2 separate regions of the Homo sapiens genome follow, and region 1 is linked to region 2. Evidence: fine-mapped expression QTL. A gene starts in region 2. The other region holds a variant in brackets. All regions are shown on one strand. Distances are between the middles of the regions.

Region 1 (5,366 bases), 39 kb after region 2:
CCTCCCCAGTAGCTGGGATTACCGGTCCATGCCGCCACTATAAGTATGTGCCATTATAAGTGTGTGCACTATGCCCAGCTAATTTTTGTATTTTTAGTAGAGACGAGGTTTCATCATGTTGGCCAGGCTGGTCTCAAACTCCCGACCTCAAGTGATCTGCCTGCTTCAGCCTCCCAAAGTGCTGGGCTTACAGGCATGAGCCACCATGCCTGACCAATTTCACCTGCTCTAACAAAACCCTTTGTTAAATGGTATCTTTCAACTTGGATGTTTGAAGCTGAACTCTGCTATCCAGCCTGTTCTCAAAGAGAGCTCATGCCTGTAATCCCAGCACTTCGTGAGGCCAAGGTGGGTGTATCACTTGAGGTCAGGAGTTCAAAACCAGCCTGGCCAACATGGTGAAACCCTGTCTCTACTAAAAATACAAAAATTAGCTGGGCGTAGTGCACATACTTATAATCCCAGCTATACGGGAAGCTGAGTTGGCAGGATCACTTACTTGAGCCAGTGGGGCAGATTGCAGTGAGCTGAGATTGCACCACTGCACTCCTGGGCAACAGAGCCAGAACCTGTCTCAAAAAAAGAAAAAAAAAAAGCCATCGCAGACCCTATTCATGTTCTAGAAGCTCTGTGTTAAATCCTGGGCCCAATCATTCTGCTGTATAGATCCCGCTATCATATTTTATTTTCCAAAAGCTCTTTCTTAGCATCTTATTGTTGCTGAGTAGATGCAGTCTACTGAAAAACTTAGGATCTCTGAAAAACTTAGGTCTTTGGAGTTTGATTTTTCTTGTTTTCTACAGTGCCTGATTTCTTTGGGAGTTGTTTTGGCTTTTAGTCTCAGTCTTCCTTGTGGGAGGCTGTTGTCAAATGTCTGATAATCCTGCACTGTCCTCTTCACATTTTAGAGGGAGACACAAGTTGATAGGGAGTTCTGTGTGTCTAAGGGAGGCGGTGAATTTTTGACAGGCTAACTCCACTAGGGGGTGATTGGGCAAGCAAAATGGCCCCTTCTTTGTAGGGCCTTTTCCCGGGGGGCAGTTCCATTTCTCCTAAGAATCCTCCAGTCTTCCTCCTGGAGCATATAAGCCCAATTGCAAGTGTTCTGGGAACAAAGTGGAGTGGGAAAGCCTATTGCTTTTGTGTGCTCCCAGGGTACCCTGACCTACCATAGCACCCACCACCCATCTAATTACTTTATAATGCATGTCTTCACACTATTTTGTAAGCCCATTTAGACAGGGACCATGTCTGTCGTTTACACATATCCCCAGCACCCAGCATAATCCGCAGCACATAGTAGCACTAAAGATGTTGCTGAATGAATAAACAGTGAGAACTCTGGTACTCGTTCAGGTGAACTACAGGACAACACAAATGAAGAGTTGTGTTTGGGATACAGGAACCCCCAAGAATCAGAACCCTTCTACCCAGGGCATCTGAGATTTTTCCTGGAATTCCAATCAAGCCATTTGCACTCTCCACAGCCCACATACAGCCTATGGCTCTAAATGTCATGGATTCTGTTTCTCTTGGATCTAGTCTGCTCCTCATAACATAAGCACTGCAGATTAAATGAACAAAAGGCATGCCCTTGGCTTATGACAAATGTTGTTTGTTCTTGGTTCCTGCACTAGCACACATTCCAATAATTATCTAAGAAACTCTCTTAAATTGATGATAAGATCCTTATACCTTAGTAGATAACCACTATAAATTGCTCACCCTGTGAGGGTGGAATGGGCTTTAAATTCTTCTTAAATTCCTTTTAGGTGGTGAAAATATGTTCTGCTAGCTGAGAAGGAGAAAAAAAGTTGATCTTTGGGGAAAGAGCCTTAAATAGACACACAACTGGCAACCAGCATTTGGACTGAGTGCATGCCATGCTGGGAAGCATATGGAGAAGGGGCAAAGGCAGAAAGGACATGAACATGAGATGGAAGAGAGAGCAGGGAGAAAGCCATCCTCCAAGGAACAGAGGAGGTGGAAGGCAGGGGAAAGTAAGGACCTAGGTACTATTTGGGCTGGGCATAGGCTACGCTGTGATAACAGAGACCCAACTATACCATGGCTTACAGAAGGCAGAACTTGATTCTCTATCATGTAACAGTCCAGAAATGAGCAGTCCAGGCAGGTGGGGTGGTTTTCCTCTGTGCAGTCTTTCAGGCCCAGACCCCTACTTTTTTTTTTTACTCCTCTATTCCTTAAGAGTGTTATTTTTGACTTTATGGCCATAGCTAGGTCACTGCCCTGTGATCATTTCAACCTAGTAGAAGAGGGGAAAAGCGGAAAAGTGACATGGAAGTTGCACACATCACTTCTGCCTATACTTCCTTGGCAAAAATTTAGCCACACCTAATAGCAAGGGAGGTTGGGATATGAGTGGCCATATGCCGAAATAAAACTCTATTAACTATGGAATAAGGAGAGACAGTTTTGGGAACAACTAGCAGTCTGTCTCACTTTTCTTCTCTTTTTTTTTTTGAAATGGAGTTTCACTCGTTACCCAGGCTGGAGTGCAATGGTGTGATCTCTGCTCACCGCAACCTCTGCCTCCTGGGTTCAAGTGATCCTCCTGCCTCAGCCTCCCGAATAGCTGGGATTACAGGCATGCACCACCACGCCTGGCTAATTCTGTATTTTTACTAGAGACGGGGTTTCTCCATGTTGGTCAGGCTGGTCTCAAACTCCTGACCTCAGGTGATCTGCCCGCCTTGGCCTCCCAAAGTGCTGGGATTATAGGCATGAGCCACCGCACCCGGCCTCTGTCTCACTTTTCAAATTAATAAAAGTGGCAAAGAAGGCCCAAAGATGGTGTCAGTGACACTGACCATGGGTAAGAGACATGAAGGCAGAACCCTGTGAATCATCTCCTTACCTGGCTTTGCCCACTTTAGCCGCTAGCATCTTGACCACGGTCAGGCAGGGCCAATCACTTTAGGTGTCTGTAAAGAAGAACCTGAAGACCTTTCGAAACTCAAGACC[T/C]TATGATGGTGATAAAAGCATTGGCTGACATTGACTAAGGACACACTCTAGAATGTACTTAGTTGCACTGAACAAACTACACAAGGCCATGCAGTGACATCAGACACCAAATTCACAGATCTCCTCTCACTACGGAGCTGGTAAACACCTTTACTGAAAGTGGGTAAGGGTATAGTTTCAGTGCATAACTAGGTTGACCTCACCCACGTAAGCTGGTCGGACAAGACTGTCCATTTCTGTCATTAAGCCCTCATTACTGGTAGCAGATACCTTTTAGTCTTTGCTTGCTAACCTTAAGGTTGTACAGCACCGAATCTTTCCTTCTTTAACTTGAACTCTTTAGTGGTCTTCTCACTGAGACAATGGAAAGGAACTTTTAAAACCTCTTTTCCTACTTGGAATCCAAACTGAATCATGGACCTTCATTTCCATAAGGGTCAGTTTCTGGAACATTATCTAATATTACACATCTCCCAAGAAACACAAGTTTAATATACAACAAATTAACCCTCCAAAGTTGGGTGAGGTACACTAAGACTAAGATGAGCTCGGATGAGCCGAGTAATGTGGATTGATAAACCAGGCATACATCTTCTGCATTTTGTGTGTGATACTCTGGAGTATAAACATGTAAGTAAGAGTTCCCATGTCCAGTCTGCCTGTCTGTCCACTCTGTACTTCAAGGTGAACTTAGTCATCCAGAAAGGGCCAGGTAGGTGGGTAGGGCTAACGCTTTGCACAATTTAATATGTGTAATTAACACAGAGCTAGTTTTGTGAAATCCTAATGTTGTATACTGGCCAATCTGTATGATGGTAAATAACCTGAAAGAAAGGTATTTTTTCTTATTGCAAGACTCACTTGGGTTCCAGTACCACCTAAACTGGTAACATGGGATAAAGAATGAACACTAAACTATTTGTGTATGTATACACACACACACACACACACACACACACACACACACATCCTTTGTATGTATGTGTGTGTGTGTGCATTCTTTGTGTATCAGAAAGACAGGATATCCACCTACCCTATGTAGGAAATACTTTAGGTGCCCTATTCTGTAAGGAATGGAGGAACTTCCTGAAGAGGCTCGGGAGGGTTATACATAAACAGGTAAACAAAAACACCCAAATCTTTAGATACTGAAGGAGGCTCACTTACTCAAGTTTACAGTTAGGAACATACCCATAGAAACAACAGTTAGGTGGTGTTTACTTTTTCAGAAGAGGAAACGACTTAATATTGCCAAAGATTGACTCCAGTTTTGAAAACAAGTACTGAATATTTAATTAAAGCAACCTTCCATTTCCTAGGAGTAAGGAAAAGGGGAAAAAAAAGTAATTCATTTACATATTGTTGCTACCTCACTACGAATCACTATTTATCAGATTCCCTTATACTCTAGGAAAATATAATAGACCATATTCACAATCACTGCCCTAGCTATAGAGAATTATATTAATAATTTCTTTCTGAGGCAAAGCACTGGTTCAAACATGGCCATTTCAGAGTGAAAAAAAAGTATGTAAAATAAATGTAGAACCTATTTCTCTTTTTTTTTAAAAAAAATTTTTCTTCCAACTAATATACTTATTTCTTTACCCAGGTGCATTTTTTGGAAAGAACCCTCTGAAAAACTTCCAGCAGTTGAATTTGGCGGGAAATCGTGTGAGCAGTGATGGATGGCTTGCCTTCATGGGTGTATTTGAGAATCTTAAGCAATTAGTGTTTTTTGACTTTAGTACTAAAGAATTTCTACCTGATCCAGCATTAGTCAGAAAACTTAGCCAAGTGTTATCCAAGTTAACTTTTCTGCAAGAAGCTAGGCTTGTTGGGTGGCAATTTGATGATGATGATCTCAGTGTTATTACAGGTGCTTTTAAACTAGTAACTGCTTAAATAAAGTGTACTCGAAGCCAGTAAGTGCTCTGGGACCTCATTATTTTAAGCCTGGTAGTTAAAAAAAATCTTGCAAAAGGATGCCAAAGAAGATAAGGACGTGGAAAGAAGTTTAATTTGATGATTAAAAACATGCAACAGTTTTGTGTCTTAGCTCTCCTACTAGGATTATCGGCGCCTTGAAGGAATTCTCATTCATCTTTGTGTTACCTTTGGTCTGGGTCACACCAACTGGTATACTGAATGCATATTAACTTAGTATAGTGCCTGGCATGTAAGAGATTCTCAACAATATTCTCAATAAATATTCGCTGAATATGAGATAAATTATTAATAGCTACTGAATAAAGAAAGATTATTTAAAACCAGAGAGGAAACTCCATATATGTTCTTTAATCCAAACAGTTTAATTCAAGCAATCTGGAATATAAAAAGCACTTTCTGATATTAGAAGGAGATCAGACTCCCAAAAAAGA
Region 2 (5,381 bases):
AAGATCACGCCATTGCACTCCAGCCTGGGCGACAAGAGTGAAACTGTGTCAAAAAAAAAAAAAAAAAAAGCCCGTGCATAGTGGTGCGCACCTGTAATCCCAGCTACTTGGGAGACTGAGGCAGGAGAATCGCTTGAACCCAGGAGGTGGAGGTTGCAGTGAGCTGAGATTGCAGCCACTGCTCTCCAGCCTGGGTGACAAAGTGAGAATCCGTCTCAAAAAAAAAAAAAAAAAAAAATTGACCCCTCTTTATTAAGGCATATTAGGAAGCTGCCTGCCTGATTTGGCCCAGTGACTTCCCTGCCACTAAATATGTAAGCAGAAGACTAACAGAATTCCAGAATAATTATTTTTGGAGTTATGAGTTACAGGCCTCTAGGAAGAAAAGTATCGTGACTTTTTCCTTCCCTCCGCATTAAACTGGGAGTTAAAAGCATGAGTAGCTACATATGCTTAAAGTCACAGAATAGTTAGTGCCATGTGGTACTTCACAGATGGCATCTCAGCTGATATTCACAACAACCCTGGGGCAACTTGGGGAACCATCATTGCACTGCTAAGAAGCTAAGGTGACTTGTATTAGTCACAGGAAGGAACCCAGACTTGAACTCAGGTCTACTTGGCTCCAGAGCTCTGGGCATTTCCACTTTACCACACTCCTAGGATAATAAGCGTTGGGAGAGACTGGGAGGAAGAACATAAGGGCAGGGGACGTAACTGTTGGAACGTAGGATGCCGAAGTTACTAGTTAATTACCTATTTGAAATGCCCTGAAAACACCTGACTGCAAATCCACTCACAAAGGAAACTGGTGAGGCAGCCCAGAAGATGTACTTGAATGAATATGGATATAATTTTGCTTATTTTACTATGAAATACTACTGTATTAGTCTACTGTGGTTGCTGTAACAAAATATCATAAACTGGGTGGTTTAAAACAACAGAAATTTATTCTTTCACAGTTCTGAGGACCAGTCCAACATCAGTATCATGGGGCTGAAATCAGGGTGTCAGCAGGGCCACACTCCTGGGAGCTTTAGGGGAGAATCCATTTATGCCTCTTCCAGCTGCAGGTGGCTGCTGGCATCTTTTGGCTCGTAGCCGTATTACTCGAATCTCTGCATTCATGGTCTTACTGACTTCTCCTGTCAGTTTCAAATCTCCCTCTGGCTCTCTGTAATAAGGGACCATTATTAAGGGCCCACCTGGATCATCCAGAATTCTCTCCCCATCTTCAGAGCCTTAAATGGAACATATCTGGAAAGACACAATATTTACAGTTCCCAGGGATTAGGATTTGGGATATTTGGGTAGCCACTATTCAGCCTACTACAACCATATTTCTACATTTTCCCTTTTTATTCTATATTACATCATTTATTAGTACAAAAGTAATAGGTGTTTGCTATGAAGAATTAGAATATACAGGTTGGGCATGGTGGCTCCCGCCTGTAATCCCATTACTTTAGGAGGACAACACAGGTGGATCACTGGAGACCAAGAGCTCAAGACCAGCTTGGCCAACATAGCAAAACCCTGTCTCTACTAAAAATACAAAAAATTAGCCATGGTGGTGGCCCACACCTGAAATCCCAGCTACTTGAGAGGCTGAGGCACAAGAATTGCTTGAGCCTGGGAGGCAGAGGTTGCAGTGAGCCAAGATTGAGCCACTGCACTCCACTCCAGCCTGGGCAACAGAACGAGACTCTGTCTCAAATAAATAAATAAATAAATAAATAAACAAATAAAATAAAAAATAAATAAGTTGATAAATAAAATTAGAATATACAGATAAGCCAAAGACAGAAATTTAAAATTGCTTATAATTGTATTCCCCAGCAATAAGCATCATTACTATTTTGGTGGCTGTCTTTGCAGTTTTTTCTCTTGAACATATGTTTATATATAGGTTTCATTACAATTTAAAAATCTAGCTGATAGTGTAGCCCTCAATCTCACTTCAGAGAAACCCACCTCACAAGTTGGGAAACACTGACACTGATGCCCCCTTAGAAAACCCAGGATGTAGACATTTATTTGCCGGGAAACTTTGGTATCCCTCTATGGCAGATAGGCTACTGTCAGAATGCTCTTTTTGAAATAAGAAGTTATGTAACACAAAGACATGTTCCTGGTAGTTTATGCAAAGACAGAGGAAAGAGTATGCAAGAATGTCATCCTCAAGGGAAGTGCAGAGAGATTTCTTCAGTCCTCAGCTGAGTATAAGCTGGCCTCCTGGAGTCTGTGAACACAAACGTCCAATGTGAGTGTGCCTGTGCAAGCCCCTGGCTGTTTATACTCCGGAGGGTGTCCCCGTGCGTCATCGGTGGAGTGGACCAAAACTGGTGATCTGTTTGCCCTGTGTGACCTTGCCCAGAACCCTGCTGACTGAGAGAACACATCTGCTGGAAGTCCTCTGGGATTCAAGGTACAGGGGTAAGCATGACCTTGAATGCAGTAGCAATGTGCTTTAGCCAACTAAGCTGGCTCATTTCATTTACCGCTCTATCTCCCATGGTTAAGCATTAAAAATACATGTTGTGGCTGGGCATGGTGGCTCACGCCTGTAATCCCAGCACTTTGGGAGGCTGAGGCTGGCAGATTGCCTGAGGTCAGGAGTTCGAGACCAGCCTGGCCAACATGGTGAAATTCTGTCTCTACTAAAAATACAAAAATTAGCCGGGCATGGTGGTGCACGCCTGTAGTCTTAGCTACTGGGAGGACTGAGGCGGGAGGAACGCTTGAACCCGGGAGGCAGAGGTTGCAGTGAGCTGAGATTGTGCCACTGCCCTCCAGCTTGGGTGACAGAACAAGACTCTGTCTCAAAAAAAAGAAAAAAGAAAGAAAAAGAAAAAAAATATATGTTGGATGTTCAGAAGACTTTGTTTCATTTTAAGGTATAGAATAAGTAACTCAACAGCAATGAATTCATATGTTGTGAACAAACAGGAAACAAATGAGTAATTCCTTTCTTGACGGAATTTCTAGCTCTTGCATCTTTTACTCTGAAGTTCTACTTCTTCCCCGGCTACTCCTGCCTACACCCATCTTCCCTTTCTGAACTGGTAGTACTTGTGTCCAAACCACTCTTACTGTGCTTTGAAAAAAAAAAAAGGAACTGCTCAGCAGTTCCCCTCTCTGTACACTGTCCTCTCACAGAACAAGAAGGTATCTGGTCTACAAGAACTCGAGGCCTCACTGAAACGGAAAGCAAATACAAAGAAACTTTATTTTAAAAACATGTCTTGGTCTCCCAAGAAGAGGGCAATTGGATTGCTCAGCCAGGTACTGTGGGTAGAGAGAATGGGATTTTTAAGGTCTGGGGCCCAAATATTAAAATCTGGGTTTACATTCATTTAAAGCTTGTGTCTGGGATGTACAAAAGCCTTAACATTGACGAGTGTGATTTGCATGCCTGGCTGGATTTGCCTGCCGAGAAACCTTTAGGGGTGGTTAATCGGGTCTGCTGGGGCTTCATCAGGTTCAAGGGGTACATGTACCCCTTGGACTACTGTGAGATGGAAAGGACTTTGGAAACACTTTTTGGCATTACAGAAAGGAAACTCACTCTTTTTTTTTTTTTTTTTTTGAGACAGAGTCTTGCTCTGTCACCCAGGCTGGACTGCAGTGGCGTGATCTCGGCTCACTGCAACCTCTGCCTCCTGGGTTCAAGCAATTCTCCTGCCTCAGCCTCCCAAGTAGCTGGGATTACAGGCACCCGGCACCGCGCCCCAGCTAATTTTTGTATTTTTAGTAGAGACAGGGTTTCACCATGTTGGCCAGACTGGTCTCAACTCCTGACCTCGTGATCTGCCCACCTCAGCCTCCCAAAGTGCTGGGATTACAGGTGTGAGCCAACGTGCCCGGCCAGGAAACTCACTCTTGTTGCTAAGACTGTTGTTAGAATCACAGATGATCAAAGCTGAAAGGAACGAGGTGGACTACTTAGTCCATCCAATCTCCCAAGTTACTGATGAGAAACCTGATATTTGGAGACAGAAGTGAAGGAAATCACCCTTTACGGGACACCTATTTCGTGATAGGGTCTTTATGTACATTATCTCAGTAGATCCTTGCAGCCTGGCTTTGAGAGGTGGAAAATGTGGTAGAGAGGAGTTAAATGTCCTGCCCTACATCACACTGCTAATTGTCTACAAAACTAGGATAGAACCTGGTCAGCACACTTCTTAACTGTTCACACACTTTTATAATATTAGTCGTATTAATGTGTTTAAAATACCATAGACTGGGTGGCTTAAACAACAGAAATTTATATTCCCACAGTTCTGGAGGCTGCAAGTCCAAGACCAAGGTGTCAGCAGGGTTGGCTTCTCCCCACGCCTCCCTCCTTGGCCTTTTCTCTCTGTATGCACATTCCTGGTATCTCCCTTTGTGTGTCCCGATTTCCTCTTCTCATAACAGCCTCATTTGAGCTTAATGACCTCTTTAAAGGCTCTGTCTGCAAATACAGTCACATTCTGAGGTTCAGGGCTTCAACATATGGATTTGGGGGAAGCCCAGTTCAGCACATAACACTAATATTAACATGTGAGATTGCTGAAGCCTATTAAAGACCTAAGAACATTCTAGTCTAGAGCCTTTTTACTAGAAAGGAAGACAGATAATACCCACTGACCATCTTTGTCACAACTACTTTCATGTTTAATCTTCACAATAGTCCAGGGAGGTGAATATTATGCATGATTTGGAAAGCAAGATTCGGAAAGGCTAAGTAACATGTCTAGGGATACTTACCTCATAAGGTGCAGAGTGAGGATTTGAATTCAGATCTGCAATGCCAAAGCCCACACACATTTTCCATTTCTGTGTGCTTCCTGTCTGCTCCTAATTATATGTACTCTTTCCCTTATTTTATCTGTGAGGTGTGGGAATGACCCCATAGACGTGGGTTATATGGGTCCAGAGAAACTTCAGTTCTCTGAGGAGCTCATGTAACCTTTTTTAAGAAAATGCCAATTTTAGAATTAGTACTAAATATTATTTTCCAGCTGGGCATGGTGGCTTATGCCTGTAATCCCAGCACTTTGGGAGGCCGAGGCAGGCAGATTGCCTATATATATATAATATATATTATTATATTATTTTCCAATGTACAAATGTGGGGGAAGGACTTCTTCCACCCAATTCAGTTATTCACTGGACAGCTTGCGGGGAGGGGTTGCAGGGCCATAGCTACATTCCAAGAGAGTACACTGGTCTCAGTCCTATTCTTTTTTTTTTTTGTCTGAGACAGAGTCTCTCTCTGTCACCCAGGCTGGAGTGCAATGGTGCTATCTTGGCTCACTGAAACCTCCACCTCCTGGGTTCAAGAAACTCTCCTGTCCCAGCTTCCCAAGTAGCTGGGATTACAGGTGTGCACC

Alleles and levels. Positions count from the first base shown, and alleles are read on the strand shown. Sizes are in standard deviations (SD) of each study's normalised expression.
As copies of C replace T in region 1, the expression in cerebral cortex of the gene that starts at base 3,137 in region 2 goes up (small effect, 0.38 SD a copy in GTEx).

What was found. PIP is the estimated chance that this variant, and not a neighbour inherited with it, causes the effect.
Region 1: its variant is the best candidate, but not a certain one, in a credible set for the expression of NLRC4 in cerebral cortex (GTEx, PIP 0.85).

Annotation. Positions count from the first base shown.
Region 1 is chr2:32,223,997-32,229,362 of GRCh38, reverse strand. It overlaps SLC30A6 (solute carrier family 30 member 6), which reads right to left. Exons shown (of 14, transcript NM_017964.5): 14 at 4,984-5,366. NLRC4 (NLR family CARD domain containing 4) reads left to right here. Exons shown (of 9, transcript NM_001199138.2): 9 at 4,598-4,910. The coding sequence ends at 4,890. Among named protein-coding and RNA genes, the nearest start is that of NLRC4, 38 kb to the left of the region's middle. The variant T/C (reference allele first, on the strand shown) is at 2,986.
Region 2 is chr2:32,262,642-32,268,022 of GRCh38, reverse strand. NLRC4 (NLR family CARD domain containing 4) reads left to right here and starts at 3,137. Exons shown (of 9, transcript NM_001199138.2): 1 at 3,137-3,285.